Linked DNA regions of Homo sapiens: region 1 is linked to region 2. Evidence: fine-mapped expression QTL. A gene starts in region 2. The other region holds a variant in brackets. All regions are shown on one strand. Distances are from middle to middle. Region 1 overlaps SMAD3 (SMAD family member 3). Region 2 holds the start of SMAD3 (SMAD family member 3).

What was found. PIP is the estimated chance that this variant, and not a neighbour inherited with it, causes the effect.
Region 1: its variant is fine-mapped to the expression of SMAD3 in whole blood (TOPMed, PIP 0.96).

What each region holds. Positions count from the first base shown.
Region 1 is chr15:67,090,531-67,098,854 of GRCh38, forward strand. The region is part of intron 1 of SMAD3 (SMAD family member 3); the gene reads left to right. Among named protein-coding and RNA genes, the nearest start is that of SMAD3, 29 kb to the left of the region's middle. RefSeq lists enhancers at 559-648, 3,354-4,124, 6,440-6,489, 7,703-8,204. The variant ATGGT/A (reference allele first, on the strand shown) is at 4,561.
Region 2 is chr15:67,060,606-67,068,875 of GRCh38, forward strand. SMAD3 (SMAD family member 3) reads left to right here and starts at 4,997. Exons shown (of 9, transcript NM_005902.4): 1 at 4,997-5,755. The coding sequence starts at 5,550. It overlaps SMAD3-DT (SMAD3 divergent transcript), which reads right to left and starts at 3,577. Exons shown (of 6, transcript NR_135686.1): 1 at 2,511-3,577. RefSeq lists enhancers at 1,943-2,087, 3,245-4,015, 5,555-6,323, a cis regulatory region at 2,008-2,021 and silencers at 4,774-5,263, 5,434-5,593, 5,744-5,793, 6,044-6,103, 6,124-6,213.

The DNA of each region.
Region 1 (8,324 bases), 30 kb after region 2:
GATGATGATGTCCACTTCTTGGGGACGATGGGGCAGGGTGGTAAACACTTCTCAATGCTTGCTTATGGGCTCTGATGTGAACCACTCACTATAGGCTGAATCCTGGTTTTCCAAGTGTTTAGAGGCTGAGCTGTTGTCCCCTGGGATTTTGGAAGGTAGACTCACATTTCACTGAAAGCCCTAGATGCTTCTCCTTACTGCAGTTCCCCTCCCCAGCACTCCCATCTCCCTGTTTTCTGGGGATTTAAATCAGCTTTGACTTGGGTCTGAAAGTAACCCGTGACAGCAGTAAGCCTCTCGATCTGTTGTTTGCAGTGTTTCAGCTAAAATATTATAAACAGACCACCAAACTGTGTTTGGTCCAAGGCCAAGCCCCTCCCTCCCTACTTGAACACTTGATTACCTGCTGCAGGGTTGCGTCTTGAGCTCCGAGGAGGAAACTGTTTATTTCAGGGCTGTTAGAGTGCAGTGCAGGAATCCAGGAGAATTTATTGTATTGTTACCATCTGGTTTCATGGAGTCTGTTTCTTTTGATTTTAATTGTGCCCTCTGGAGAGAAAGATCCTCGAAATGGTGGAAAAAGAAGATACCACCTTCCTCCCTGCCCTGCCCATGCCCTGGCACACACATTGCTATGGTGCATGGTGGGCATGGCTGAACCAAGTCCCCTTATTCTTTGAACATCTTTGCGTATTATTCCTGCTCCCCCAGCCGTCTCCAGGCCCCAGTCTCCTCTGGAGGGATTTCCCAGATGGCTTCCAGGCCAGAGCCTGACAGGAGAGATAGGACCTGCCTCCACGGTAACAAATGGCTGAAGGCGGTTTGGGGTGTTGCCAGTAGCCTGCCCTTCCGCAGTGGCTAAGGATCCGGTGTTGCGGTGATACATGATGTGACCTCTTCAACCAGTGAGTCACTCACCCCCAGATAACCACCCGGTACTTTCAGGGGAAACCGTTGTATCATTGTGGCTGTGGCCATGGTTTCTCCAAAATAAGGTGTTTTTAGAAATGAAAGTACAGGGATTGGTTTCCTTAGATTCATTGTCATGGATTCATAGTTCCCCAACCTTTTTCACGTAAAGACTCACCTCTGTTTCCTCTTAAATTGTACATTTGGTGTCTGTTTTATATATTAATAATAACTGACACTCTTCTAAAGTTTTTTGGGGAAAGAAAACATAAGTTTACCAAGCTCTCAATTCTAGAAGGTAATAGCCTTCTAGAATTGTCCATTTGCATAAGCATTTTTATGCTTATTGCTGTAATCAGTGTGTCAGTCAAACGGGAAGGAGGAACTACATCAGGTATTTAGCACAAAGGGAATTTAATACGGGACCTTGGTTACACAGGTGATAAAGCAGCTGAGAAGCCACAATGGGAAGGTGAGGTGACCCAGAACTTGGAGGAAGCCGCTGCCTTTAGGCTGGAGGGACAAAGGGAACAGGTGGTGTTCCCAGAGCCCAGGGTTGGGGTCACCAGTGGGCCTGTCTAGAGCAGTTGCAGCTGCTTCTAAAATTGCCGACCCAAGGTAGAAAAGGAGAGAGGGGAGAAACACTGTGGCCTCTCCCTCCCTCCTACCCACTACTTGCTGTGAGAGCCTCCTATTATTTAAACCCTGCTGGAGGCCTCCTGATCTGGAGCCTGGAAAGTCAGGGCTCAGCCCCAGGGAGGACACAGCAGAGCACAGGAAGATGAGGGATGGATCAGAGGGCAAACTGGACTTGGACCAGCACAGGGTGCAAGCCTGATGCTCTAATTTTATATTTTATCAGCATTTTCTTATATGTGGCTTTCATAATTACACATATTTTATCAAGTAGATGAACCGCATTTAACCATTCCCCAGCTGTTAGGTGAACACTTTAAATTACTATAAATCAGCAGTTCTCAAAGTGTGGCCCTGGGCCAGCAGCGTCAGCATCACCAGGGAACTTACTAGGAATGCAGAGTCTCAGGCCCCGCCCCCAGGCCTCTTGGATCAGAAACCCTGAGGGCGGTCCCAGCAGTCTGAATTTTGTACACTCTCCGAGGGCTGCTGATGTGCATTTGAGCTTGACAATCATGATTATAGGCAATGATGCACCGTGTGGAAGCTGGGGGCAGGATACTGAGGAGGGTGCTGGGGGTAGGAGTGGTGGAGGGAGTTTGTCCAGGGGAATGTGGTGTAGCGGAAAAGGCACAGGACTGGTAGGGCTGTGCCCCTTTAGGCCCAAGCCTGCCCTTGCTCTTAACCTCTTAATGGGTTTCTTCTTTCTTCTGTTAAACAGCTAAAAATATCAAATCATGGGGTTGCTGTGACGGTTAAATGTAATAACAGGCACGATGTTCCATATATGTTGGGTCTTCTGGAGCTTTGGGGAAGGAGGTGTGGCAATAACAGCCAGCTTCTGCATCATGGAAAATGGCCCCCATGCCCATCCCTGAGTTGTGTGGTCTGAAAATCAATGATGAACACTTAGGAGGCTTGTAGCCTGCTTTGAGTCAACAGGAAGACTGGACTTGAGAGTTTGGAATCTATAGTCTAACTTCCCTTCCTCACCCTGTCTTTGTAAATGGTGCTCATCTAACCCTACAGTTACTATCTTTTCACTCATGTCTAGCCACTTGTTAGAGGGGAAGGAACCCTGGTGTCAGGACAGGACTCCTGGCTCCCTGAGCTTGCTGTGTATTCCGGGGCATATCCTTAACCTCTCTGAGATGTACTTTTCTTATCTGTAAAACCTCTATGTTGATGCAAATCAGGTGCGATGATGGACGCAAAAACTGCCTTGAACACCTTAGCGGGCCTGTGAATATAAAGCCTTCAGGATCCACACCTCTGCCAGGGCCCACACCAGCCTCGCCACCTCGGTGAGCCTCTCATTCCACTGCCAGTGCAGGGGTGCATAATCAGGATTTGCCAGTGGAGGTAGGAAGGGTGGCTGGATTGTGACTGTCACGCTCCTGGCATCAGATGATACTGGTAGCAAGCTAGGGTCGTCTGTGCACTTTGCTCTCTCTCAGTCTTCCCAGCAGCCCTGTCAAGCGGGGAGTCTAGCAAGAAGTGGCCAAGGCGCAGATCATTTAAGAGGAAGGATGTGAGCAAACTGGATCCCAAGGGGACAGACAGAGGCCCACTTTGCCTCAGAGTCCAGAGAGCTGCTGCTGCTAAGAAGGGAAAGAGGAACTGGGTCGGGGTGCCTGCTGACTTGCAGCGCTGTGTTGGCATGCGAGGTAGCACTGGTTGGGAGGCGGTTACCTGAAGGAAGCAAAGGCAGCTGGTGGTTCCTATCTTCTTGCCTCTGGCAGCACCTAAAAGAAGCCTCTTGGGCCAATGAGAGGATGGACTGTCCCCCACCTGCAGAGTTCTGTGAAGTGGTGCGGACGTCTTTGTTGATCTCATTTGGTGCCTCCCCCTGTTGATGGCTGAGGAAGCCAAGGCTCTGAGAAGGCACATGGTTTACCCGAGGGGACACAGGCAAGGAATCTGAACCCGGATTGCATTTTCTGTTTTAGGGCTCTTTGTGTGACCACGGTGCTTCCCAGGCCCACACTTCCAGTGTTCCAGGCCCTTGACCACCAATCCTGTGGAGGGGTCCTCAGGGCAGGCAGTGGGACCACCTGAGGCCTGCGTGGGGTGGCCTGTGGTGTGAGGGACCCAGGAAGTCAGCCTGCACCTCGGCGAGTCAGAAGATGTGGCCATCCACCAACCATCAGATGTTCCCCTACGCTTAGGGCTGTGACCAGAAGTGGCATCAAGATGGGAGGCGAAGCTTCTGGGACCAGAGAACCAGCTGCTCCTGTTCATCCTGCTTTTGGGTGAATAGCTGATGCTCTGGGCCCCTCATCCCACCATCCCACCCCGTGGCTCCTCCTGAGCAGGGCTGAGGGCATTTACCTGGCTGCCTTCTAAAGCAGACTTGGCACGAGACAATCTTATTCAAACTCTGCTCAAAATTGCTACCCTGAGGAGAGGGCTGTGACCAGGCAGGACGGGGTGTGATAACATGGAACGCAGGGCCTGCTGGAGCAGGCCCTGATGAGTGTAAATAACTGTGTTAGAGGCAGGACCTGAGCTTTTCACTCCATAAATATATATTACTTCTAATGTGGCCAGGGCCGAGCTGAAGATCATAATTATGTGAGATCTGCTTTACAGGCATTTAGGGAAATGCGTGGGGCTGCACTGATGTAGGCAAAGATGTGGCCACATACATTTAACGTGTCTCAGAGGAGCCTTTGCTTTAACCCTTTAATCAGACCCTTCCAGGGTGCTCCTGACTTGATGTTCCAGAGCGTTTGGAGTCAAGAGTTGCACTCTTTTTTCTTGCATTAAATGCACTTGAGTTTTAACCCAGTCTCTGGGCGGATGGCAGGGCTGCATGAGGGGGTCTCCGTGGATGTGGATAAGTCCAGAGAAGTCAGCTGAGCTGACTGGGCAGGTCTTGGGTAAGTCACGCCACTTCCCTGAGCCTCAGTTTCTCCAGCAGTAAAATGTTACCTGTCTGTTAGGGTTGTAAGATTGAGTCAACATATGTACAAGGCATTGCTTAGTGTTTACCACCTTGCTGTGAGCTGGTAA[ATGGT/A]TGGTTGGTCCCTTCCTCTCCCCTTGGTGTTAAGCATATCAAAAGATGGCTGCGTGCTCACCTCCCCTGCTTTACTGGGTGGACAAAGGAGCTGTCACACAGTGTGGCAGCCTTAGAAAGGTTAAAGAAGGCCAGTGAAGTCTTCTGGCTCATCTGGTCCTGAGGTGGGTGAGCATTAAACCCAGATCCTTTTTGTGTTTCAGTATTGGATCCTTTGGCCGTCATATCTGAGACCCAGGGCCTCAGAGTGTGGGGTCCTAACCTAATTTGGCTTTGGGTGAACTGGCCAGCAAATGGAAGGATGGCTGTGGAAGTGTGTCTTGAGCCTGTCCTTACACAGGTGTGGCTGTCATCAAGGCCATCTTCATGGGCACGTGACGAGTACAGTCACATAGAGTTCATGCTCAGGAGGGCCCTATGCTTGGTTTAATGCTCTGCTGTCACCAGCTTGAAATCCTTTTTTTTTTTGTTATTGTTGCCCAAGCTGGAGTGCAATGGCTCAATATCGGCTCTCTGTAACCTCTGCCTGCGGGTTCAAGTGATTCTCCTGCTTCAGCCTCCCGAGTAGCTGGGATTACAGGCACCTGCCACCACACCCAGCTAATTTTTGTATTTCTTTTAGTAGACGTGGGGTTTCACCATGTTGGCGAGGCTGGTCTCGAACTCCTGACCTCAGGTGATCCAGCCTTGGGCTCCCAAAGTGCTGGGATTACAGGTGTAAACCACTGCATCCGGCCCATCTTGAAATTCTTAATAATTTTCTCTTTGACCTAGTGTTTTGGAGCATGAGCATGGATAGAGGAGATGTGGGCAGCATGTGCCCATTGAGCCTTCTGCCCCATTCACATGTAGCATTTGAGCACAGACTTCTGCCGGACCTACAATGTGGGGGAGTTGAGTGAGAGTCAAAGTGAGTGTGAGATGTCACATCTGCGACTGAGTAGCAGGGGCCCTGACAGTCCTGATGCTTTCCATCTAACTGGAACTTGTCTTGGTTGTAGAAAGAAGGCGATGACATTCTAAGAAACATCAACGACCAAAGAACCCCATCATATCCTTTATTACTCACGTCACTTCCCTGACACCAACCACTTATATTGAAAATGATGACGGAAGAAGGGAAAGGAAAGATAGGGCACCCATATTGCCTTTTCCTTTCAGATCTTCCTTACTCCTCAGGCAGCATAAAGAGTGAGGTAGAATGGACACATAGCGAGAAGTGAAGTAAAAACGATTGAGTTAGCTTTATGGATGTTTCTCTGGTTCTGGTACATCACAAAATGCACATCCAAGTCCTAAAATACAATTCATGTAATGTTGGTGATTCCACATACTAGTTAAAGGCTTTTTATATTTGCAGTTAAAACTGGCATCACACAATATAAATAGGAGTGGTAAAATTCATGCTAATTCATGTAATTTAAAATTTTAATGTTGCTTTACTTAGAATAATATTAAATAGCAAATTAAAAATACCATGACACATCAAGAGAGAGACTGTGGAGGAAAGAGAAAAAGCTTTCTATTTTAGTACCATGATTGATACTTTTTTTTTTTTTGCCTTTTGCACAAAGGGTTCCATATTTTCATTTTGCACTGGGCCCCACAAATTATGCAGCCAACCCTGACTGGCATCCTGGGGCTGGAGGTCTCAGGCTGGTCTTGCACGTGCAGCCTCTAGATCCCTGGTCTGCTCACATTGTCTCCTGGGTTGCGGAGCTAAGAAGCATCATATAGGCAAGTGAGCATGTGTGCTTGCTCTGAAGATTCCAAGCTTCCAGGTGGTGGTGGCTCTGTTGATAGAGATAAAAAGTTGAGGAATTTCAGAGGCTACAAACATACTCTTGTTGAAGGTGCTTTGGGGGTCTCCTGAGCATTTACTTTTGTGAATTTTTGGGCAGCCTAGTATAGAGGTGATCCAGCAGTAAGCTGAGAGAGAGGCCCTAGTTTGACTCTTAACTCAGGCATGGTCTCCTTGGGTGAGTCATTTCTTCATCAGGCAGTCCTCAGTCTTTTGGTTGCAGTGTAGTTGTTAAAAATGTGGGTACTTGGAGGCTGAATTCTTGGGTCAAATCTTATCTCCATCTCTCTGTCCTTTTTTTGTGGTTTTTTTTGTTTGTTTGTTTTTTGTTTTTGTAGGGGACAGGTTCTTCCTCCACCACTCAGGCTGGAAGGCAGTGGTATGATATTGGCACACTGCAGCCTTGACCTCCCAGCTCAAGCGATCTTCCCACCTCAGCCTCCTGAGTAGCTTGGGACTACAGGCACACATCTCTATGCTGGGCTAATTTTCATGTTTTTTTTGTTGTTGTTTTTTGTTGTTGTTTTTTGTAGAAACAGAGTTTCACTATGTTGCCCCAGGCTAGTCTCAAACTTGTGAGCTCAGGCTATCTGCCTGCCTCAGCCTCCCAAAGTGCCGGGATTACAGGTGTGAGCCACTGCGCCCGGCCTTATCTCCATCTCTTAACTAGTTGTTTGATGTTGGGCAGGTTGTTCAAGCCTCCTGGAGCCTTGGTTTACCCATCTATAAAATGGGTATAATGGTAATTATCTTATAGCATGGTCATGAGCGTGAAATGAGAGCAGGGGGAGGAGTAATCATTGTGTCTGGTCCATGGGACTGAATCAATGCTAGCAATGGTCATGATGGTGAAGAATGAGGGGAGGAGGAAGAAACAATTCCTGTGGGTGCTAGGACCAAAAGTAGTATCCTCTAGGAATCCTGGCCTTCAAGGTCTAACTTCCAAGATTCTGTGAGTACGATTCTAGGGAGCCTCTGCCTCAGACTTCTAAGTAGTTCTTCAGGCTGTGCTCTAGAAGTTACTGGAATGAAAGAAAAATTGTAGTGTTTGAAGGTCTTCAAGGATCCTGGTCCTCTCACACTGTCACTCTTAGTCACATGACCTTTGACTGTCCATTCCCTACTAAGCCTTGGTTTACGCATCTGTCAAATGGAGCATTCGTGGGTGTGCCTGCCTTAGAGGATGAGACCCAGCTGAGATGACATATGGAGAAATCGTTTATAAACTTAAGTACTGGTGTTAGGAAGAGCTAACACGGTGAGTCTTCAGTGTTTCTTTAAGTGCTGCTCACTACTGTCCTGAGAGACTCCAAGAAGCAGTTACTTTGTTTGGGCCTCAGTTCATCATCTGTGAGATGAGAGGATTGGGCTTTGTGCCTAAACTGCCCCCCCACCCCACCACCCAAGACAGATTAAAAAAGAAGGAAGGAGGGAGGGAGGGAGGGAGGGAGGGAGAGAGCGAGCGAGCAAGCAAGCAAGCAAGCCAGCAGGATTTGGAATCGTCCCCTAATTGGAACCACAATCGCAGGTTTCAGGGACTCAGGAAAGGGTGCAGCCCAGCTTGTGGTTGAGAAATGAATGTCAGATGTTAGGAAGAAAAAGGCCTATCTCAACATAGCAGGGGTTTCTTACTGCCCCTGCCTCCTCAGCCCCGGTAGCCTGTCACTCCCTGGCGAACAGCTTGGCAGCACAGAGGCAAACCACAGAGTACATTTGAGGCCCAGATCTGCTTATTTCGAGGGTGGGGCCGCGTTTTTCTCCTGCCACAGTGAGCTAATTAAAGAAAACAAGCTTCGGGAGTTGGGAGAGAACTGTCCACAGGACACTTGGGGAGGCTTGCTTTGGTTGTGGAGGCCTCCACAGCCCCCGGAAGGCAGGTGGAAGTGGGCATGGAGGGTCCTACGCATCCCCAGCGGGGGTCTGAGGGCCCACTGTTGCTCAGCTGGGGGATTTGGGGAC
Region 2 (8,270 bases):
GTCTCTAAGAATTTAACTATGCTAGGTACTTCTGTAAGTGGAATCACACAATTTTTGTTCCTCTGTGGCTGGTTTATTTCACTTAGCATAATATTCTCAAGGTTCATCCACAATGTATCATGTGTCAGCATTTCCTTCCTTTTAAAGCTAAATAATATTCCATTGTATGGGCCAGGAACAGCGGCTCATGCCTGTAATCCCAGCACTTTGGGAGGCCGAGGCGGGCAGATCACCTGAGGTCAGGAGTTCAAGACCACCCTGGCCAACATGGTGAAACCCCATCTCTACTAAAAATACAAAATTAGCTGGGTGTGGTGGCACATACCTGTAATCCCAGCTACGAGGGAGGATGAGGCAGGAGAATCACTTGAACCTGGGAGGTGGAGGTTGCAGTGAGCCAAGATCGCGCCACTGCACTCCAGCCAGGGCAATAAGAGCGAAACTCTGTCTCTAAATAAATAAATAAATAAAATTTAAAAATTCCATTGTGTGACTACAATACATCTTGTTTTTCCACCCATCCATTGATGGACACTTGAGTTACTTCTACCTTTTGACTGTTGTGAATAAGGCTGCTACGGACATGGGTGTGGAAATACTCGTAGTCCCTGCTTTCAATTCTTTTGGGTATATCCCCAGAAACAGAATGACCGGATCATATGGTAATTCTGCTCAGTTTTTTGAGGAACTGCCATACATACACCACAGCATTTTCCTCAGAGGCAGCACTACTTCACATCTTCACCAGCAATGTGCAAGGATTCTAATTTCTTCACATCCTTTCCAACATGTTATTTTCTGTTTTTTAAAAGCGAATAGCTGGCCAGGCGCGGTGGCTCACGCCTGTAATCCCAGCACTTTGGGATGCCAAGGTGGGAGGAATCAGCTGAGATCAGGAGTTTGAGACCAGCCTGACCAACATGGATAAATCCCGTCTCTACTAAAAATACAAAATTAGCCAGGCGTGGGTGGCACATGCCTGTAATCTCAGCTACTCAGGCGGTTGAGGCAGGAGAATTGCTTGAACCCGGGAGGCGGAGGTTGCAGTGAGCCAAGATGGCACCATTGCACTCCAGCCTGGGCAACAAGAGCGAAACTCCATCTCAAAAACAAAGAAAAAAAGATAATAGCCATCCTAATGGATGTGAAGTGGTTCAATGTATATCTTTTTATTTGTATAACTTCTTTCAAAATGTATATAATTATTTTGTGTATATGTAATTTGTTTTACATAGTAGCATTATGCTATTCCTTTCCCTCTGTGTCTTACTATTTTCTGTTGGAACTGTGTTTAAAATCTATACATTTGTTTTATGTACATGGAATTCATTGCTTCTCACTTTTGCATAGCACTTTATAGTATGCATGAATCACATCCATGTATATTGAGAACCTACTATGTGCTTGTACCAAGCTTTCTATATGATTTAATCTGATTCCATACAGCAATCCTAAGAAGGTGTTGTAATTATCACATTTTATGGATGAGAAAACTGACACACACAGAGTTAAGGAACGTGCCCAGAGTCACACAGCCGGAAGTGGAAGAGGTAGAAGTTTAACCCAGGTCATTCTGGTGCCACAGAAGAGCTCACACGTGTAAGGTGTTACAAAGAGCTATAGGTAGAGATCTGACTGTAGACAGAGGCTCTCTCTTAGGTGAGGGCACTCTGATAAAAGTTCTAGTCCTGATTTGGCTACTTATCTTCACAGTGCAAATCACCTTCCCTTACAGACATCACTTTCTGTCTGTGTAAGATGAAGATGATTTTAATGCTTTTTCTAGATTCACTACTTGTTGATTAAATACCCTTAAGCTAATGGGAAAATAATCAGAATTGAAGTCAGGTGTTTGTTTCTTTCGTGTATTTGGAGTGGCTGGCCTACCTGGGAGCCACTCCAAATACACGAAAACCCTCTGATGTGTCTATTCACGAGGTGAACTGTTCATAGGATGGACTATTCCCAGGGAAACAGTTGCTGTCTCCACTTCCATCCCACCTCTCCTGAACTTTGCACTTACCATGGTGAAAAATTAACTGGGCTAATGTTTCCCTCCCAAGGACAACCTCTGCAAAAGCAGGTATGGCTGGGCCCCAAAAGACCAGGTGCCAGAACAGAGTTGTACCCATCCAGAGCAGCCCACCCATTCACTGCCCAAAGTCAAGATCAAGAGAACATGCAGGGTCTTCTCAGCACTGGAAGAATCAGTTCCTCAGCCCTCCTCAGAGCTTTCTGAAACTGGACTTAGTCCCCCAGTGGAGGGACTTCTCTTGGAGAAACAGGCCTGAGGAGAAAGAACTAGCCCAGAAATGGCACTTATTAGACTTGTAGGTGGGTCCAGCACTATTTTTCTGCATGCACAGCTGTTCTTGTCACACGGATGCCAGCAGGGAAGCATGGTTCTGCCACACTAACTAGCTGGCTGCCTAGTTATTTCCTCCCCTCAGGAAAATGAGAGGGCTGAATGAGGGCCCCTTCCCATACCATGATTTTACAGGGTGAAGTACCTGTCAGGTCCTTCTACTACATGTAATCCTCAAATCTCTCTGACGCTCTTCCTCTACAGTGCAAATCACTCTCCTTCAGCAGACATTGCTCTCTCTGTAACATAAAGGACTTGAACTACAGGAGGACAGTTACAATGCTCTTTCTGGATCCACCACTCTGCACAGTGAGAACCGCTTGCTCCATTCTTACAGCGGAGAGAACGGACGCTGCCCAAGGGGAAGAAGAGAAAGAGCCGGGATTGGAAGCCAGGCCAGTCACTGATGGATCCTGAGCCCCTCTTACTTTCTTTGGCTACCTCTCAATGGTTGGACTTGTTCAGGTTAAGATTAACACTTTACTGGACGATGATGACTGCAAGGCCCCTGCCCATCTTTGCCCACTCAGTCACATCATCCTCATCCCCACCCTTTGATGCTTCTCTAGGCTGTGAACGCCTTGAAAACCTTAGTCTTTTATTTTGGAAGTTCAGGAACTGAATAGGAGGGCTGCAACTCAGAGCTGCTCCGTCAATGTGTGTTAAACTTATTTGACCTCCCTCCACCACTTTTCATGGCATTAGCAATGCAAACCTTTTCACATGAGCTTCCCACAGCCACCCTAGGAGATCGCGAGGGAAGCTACCTCTAGCCCCATTTTACAGGTGAGCAAATAATCCTTGCAGTGTTACAACAGTGTGCCCGTGTAGAGAACTGTTTTGCAAAGAGCTCGATCAATGATGTCATCTTTGCCTTCCGTGACCCAGGCAGCTGGGTGCAGTCTCAAGATCGGAGACTGAGGCTTCAACAAAGTATTGGGTTCAAATTCCAGCTCTGCCACTTGGAACCCTGAGTAAGTAATGTAATCTCTCTGTGCCTCCGTAAACGTGAGGCACAGGAACATCTACCTCACCAACCACTGTTAAGACTGAATCAAAGGGCAGCAGGCGGACTACCCGGAATGAAGAAAGCAATCAATAAATGTGGATTGTGTCATCCTTGTCTCTCTTGACGGACGGGAAGAGGAGAGTGAAACCTAAGACCACAGCGGCAGCGCGTTAACAGGAGGACCAGCAAGGAACGGAAGCCAGGTTGTCAAGCCTCAGTTGGCTTTCACGTATTCTCCTTTTCAGGCGGGTATTTAGGAAGAGAGGAGGGTGAGGAGCACAGCGCACTTCTGCAGCAGCAGCTGCGGATTGGCTTGTGGGAGGCGGTTCTCCGGAGCAAGGCAAGGGCCCCTGCCGCTTCTGGGCTGACTGTGGATTCCGCCACACCTCACAGGGCTTTGTAACTCCCCACCCACTTGAGGGTTCCAGATAACTTTTTTTTTTTAACAAAGCAGGGGTGGGGGTGGGAGATTCCTGCTGTTAAAAACAAACAAAGGGCTTAGACACCGGCTAGTCGGCTGCGGGAGGCAGCAAGAGAAAGGCCGAGGGGCCTGGAGTAGCTCCTGAAAACCGCCGAGGGCCCTGCGGGCAGACGCCCCTGAATTCTTTTGGTGGGGAGAAAAGCCGCGGAGCTCCCCAATGTGCCAATTGGTTTGTTGTTGTTTTGCTTTTTTTGAATACACAAACTCTCCGAAAACTCCTGTCTTGCCCCACTTTTTTGTGAGTTCATTGCTTTGGAAACAAAACTCTCTTCCATTTATTGGCAATTATCAAATTTCCGATCCTTCTCTATCAGGAGATCCAGCAACAAACACCCTGTTATGTAAATTTCTTTCAAAGATAAATTCGAAAGCCCCTCCATTCATTCCTTCAAGAACTCAACAGATGTCCTTGAGGCTCATTTTCTGCCGGGCACTCGGTTCACAAGGCTCAAGAGACCCCTGGCTCCAGCCATTGTCCAGGTTGTCACTGGTGTCCCCAGCTCTCCACTTCTGAGGACCCACTTCTCACCCCCTCCTCCTCCGCACACGTTCCCGAGGCTCTCGGCCGGTGTGATCTCACCGACTAGAGAATAAAAACAGCCCAGGGGCGCCGGCGCCGGCCAAGGGCCTTGACGGGGATCAGCAAGCGCGAGGCCAAGTGCGGGCCCCAACTTCCTGGGCCCGGGCCTTCCGCGCGCCCCCTCTCGGGCTCGGGTCCTCTCCAGGGTGCACTCGCGTCCGGACGACGCTTACTTGCTGCGAGTCCAACCCTCTCCGGCCCGCAACTCCAACCGAGCCGCCCGAGTGTGGACTCCGAGAGCGGACGCCACGGGCCGCGCTCAGCCCTCCCGCCCGAGGCCCCTCTCGCCGTGTTTCCCAGGACTTCCTCCCCGCGCCCGCCCGACTTCAGGTCGGGGCCGCGCAGGGTCCCGCGCGCTCCAGCCAGGACTGCCGCCGCCCGGGTCGCCCACGTGGGCGTGCTGGGCGCGGGGTGGTGGCCGGCCGGGCGCCCTCCCCGGAGCAGGGGGCGGGCAGGGCGCCCGCGGGAGGAGGTGGCGGGGCGCGGGGGAGGAGGCGGGGAGCCCCGGCGGCGAGGGGGCGGTGACAGCACTTGGAAAGGAGGCTGCACGCGGATTTGCATGAAACACAGACTGGGAGCGGGCGGGAGCGGGAGCGCGGCGCACGCCCCGGGCCGGCCCAGCCAGCGAGCGAGCGAGCGGCGAGCCGGGAGGAGGAGGGTGGCGGGGCGGTGAGGCCGCAGAGGCGGAGGGATCTGCGCATCAAAGCTAGCGAGGCGAGCGAAGTTTGGCCGGGGGTTGGACTTTCCTTCCCGGAGGCGGCACCCAAACAGCTACCCCGTGCGGAAACCCAAACTTCTGCTGCCACTTGGAGTCTCGCGGCCGCCGCCTCCGCCCCGCGTTCGGGGCCTTCCCGACCCTGCACTGCTGCCGTCCGCCCGCCCGGCCGCTCTTCTCTTCGCCGTGGGAGCCGCTCCGGGCGCAGGGCCGCGCGCCGAGCCCCGCAGGCTGCAGCGCCGCGGCCCGGCCCGGCGCCCCGGCAACTTCGCCGAGAGTTGAGGCGAAGTTTGGGCGACCGCGGCAGGCCCCGGCCGAGCTCCCCTCTGCGCCCCCGGCGTCCCGTCGAGCCCAGCCCCGCCGGGGGCGCTCCTCGCCGCCCGCGCGCCCTCCCCAGCCATGTCGTCCATCCTGCCTTTCACTCCCCCGATCGTGAAGCGCCTGCTGGGCTGGAAGAAGGGCGAGCAGAACGGGCAGGAGGAGAAATGGTGCGAGAAGGCGGTCAAGAGCCTGGTCAAGAAACTCAAGAAGACGGGGCAGCTGGACGAGCTGGAGAAGGCCATCACCACGCAGAACGTCAACACCAAGTGCATCACCATCCCCAGGTGGGGGCCCGCCCGGGGGGGACCCGGGGTCACGCCGGCCCAGCCCCCTGGCACTGCGGGGCCGACCCAGTGGGGCTGGAGATGGGAAGAGGGAGAGAGAGGGAGGGAGTGAGACTGTGTGGGTGCGTGTGTGTGAGAGTGGGAGAGCGCGGGCAGGAAGGGGGTGGGGGGACCCCAAACAAAACCATCTCTGATTTGCAAAGATCAGAGCCCGAGGCTTCCACGCGGCACTCTGGCTTCCACACCTCACATTCCCTTTCCACCTCCGGGAGGGGAGAGCGGGTTGCTGCGGGACTCGGCCGCCCCCACTCCGGGGAGCTGGGGCTGGAAGTTGAGGCCCGCTTTGTTCGGCTCCGCGGGCCGGAGCCCCTCCTCCGCCGCCGCCTCCCGCCCCCGCGGCCCGCGCTCGTGGAGGTGGTGGTGTCTTTGCGTTTCTTTTCTTCAGTCGGGTCTCCCCACTTTCCTCTACAGGAATGCGGTCCGTACAGCTGGGGCTGTGGGTGAGGAGCGGGAGCCTAGTGATTGACAGATTCCTTCTTCGTTCTTTCTTTGCCTTCGGGATTAGCATTTTTATCGAGTATTTTTAGACTCGGTTGTGCCAGTCTCCCGCCCCCTGAGCATGCACGCACTTTGGTTGCAGTGCAATGCTCTGACTTCCAAATGGGAGAGACAAGTGGCGGAAAATAGGGTCTTCTCCCACCTCCCACCCCCCCATCCCGACTCTTTTGCCCTTCTTTTGGTCCAAGAGATTTTGAAACCGTGCAGAACGAGGGAGAGGGGCAGGCTGCAGCCGGGCAGATAACAAAACACACCCCAAAGTGGGCCTCGCATCGGCCCTCGCATTCCTGTAGAGCCTTCCTTCCCAAAGCGCGCTGCCATCTGTCTGGATCTCCTTTATCCTTCCCGTTGCGCGCTAGCTAGGTCGGGCGGGAGCCCACAGATGGCTGATAGAAGGGGTCAGTGACTTCACTCCCCCAGGGCCTTCCTTAGCTTAGATGTGCCTGGCTGGGAACTGGGGGTGCGGGTACCTTGGCTTCCTGTCTCTACCTCTCAGCCTCCTTTGATGCTGAACCAAGGGAGAGAGCGTGTGTGTTGGGGGCTGGCTCTTTTGGGGGTCCCAGGCTGCCGAGGAATGAGTAGAAAGCACCAGGGACTGTCAGCCGCAAAGGGATTGTCATCCCTGCTCCTGGGCCAGGGTGGACTCCATCCTTGGCCACCTGCTTGGGGCAGTTGTACAGGGGCTGCCAGGCGAGTCAGGCAGGCACAAAGCAACATCTGTCCACGGGAACCGAGGGCAGGCCTCCCCTGGAAATAAATGCCACATATGGTGGGAGTGCGGACTTAAATTTTTTTTAACTGGGTGGATCCAGTCAATAAAGGGGGAGGGAAGGCGGTGTGCTGTCTGGGGAAGTCTCTGGGCGTGTGATCGGGAGCCAGAATTGACTTCAGAGGAGGTGGTGTGATGTGATGGTCAGAGAGACCTGGGATTTGGTTCCAGCTCTGGTTGTTAATTCTTCTGTATTCCTTCCGTGGGGGTGGCTAGGGTAGAGTGGGTGAGTATGCTACTTCTCTTTCTGGGGAGGGGTCTGCCAAACCTACCTTCTCCTTATCTGCCTGGGTGCATTGAAGACAAGTGCTTTATGTATTGAAACAGAAGAAAAAAAGTGGTATCAATTGTAAAACAGGCAGCTGTGAAAAGTGTTTCACAGTTTACAAAGCACTTTCACATGGTTTTCTGAGGTCCTCAAAAAAAGACAGAAAGCAAGCAAGCAACCAGCCATGGAAAGTAGATAAGGTTGTTAGGCTTAAGATTATCACATTTTTAAAGCAGAGGAAACCTTAAAAGAGAGAGGTGAAAAGGCTTGAGTCATAGACATGGGGTTCTGCCTGAATGTGCTCTTTCTGCTGCCCCATGCTGCTTTATACTTTGAAGATCCTGAATACATTCTTTGCTGAATGCTAAAGCTGTGTTAGCTTGGGGAGGGCCCTGTGGATCTTTGTATGTGCGGTTGCTTCTTTAATCTTTGGGCTGGTGATAGCTTGGCAGAGAGGCCTTGCTTTCCCTTGCCTTGGTAGGAGTTTGTCCTCTGTGGGGCCATACCTTTGGCCTGCCTTTTCCTCTTCCAAAGTCCTGCTGAGACTTTGGAAGCCTAAGACGTGTGAACGCTTTGGATGATTCTGAGAGTTCAAGCCAACCTGCCCTGTGGCCTTCTCGTGACTTTGTTAGGACTGAGGCATCTTCTGCCTGCCTGGATAGGACTGAATACAAAAGTAGATTTTTTTTTTCATCTTTTTTTTCAGTTAGGGAAACCCAGTTGCTTGGGTGGATCCAGACAAAATGGATTTTCATCCTTGGATTTTGTGCCCACGCCTCTGGGTCACCTTGTGTCCCTTGGCAACAGCTGCTGCTGTTTTGGTCGTGGGCAGAAAACTAAAGGCCACGTCTTGGGGAGGTGGCTGGTTTGGCCCTGTGCTGGTGATATCAATGTGTCTGCTAAGCCCCATAGATTGCAGT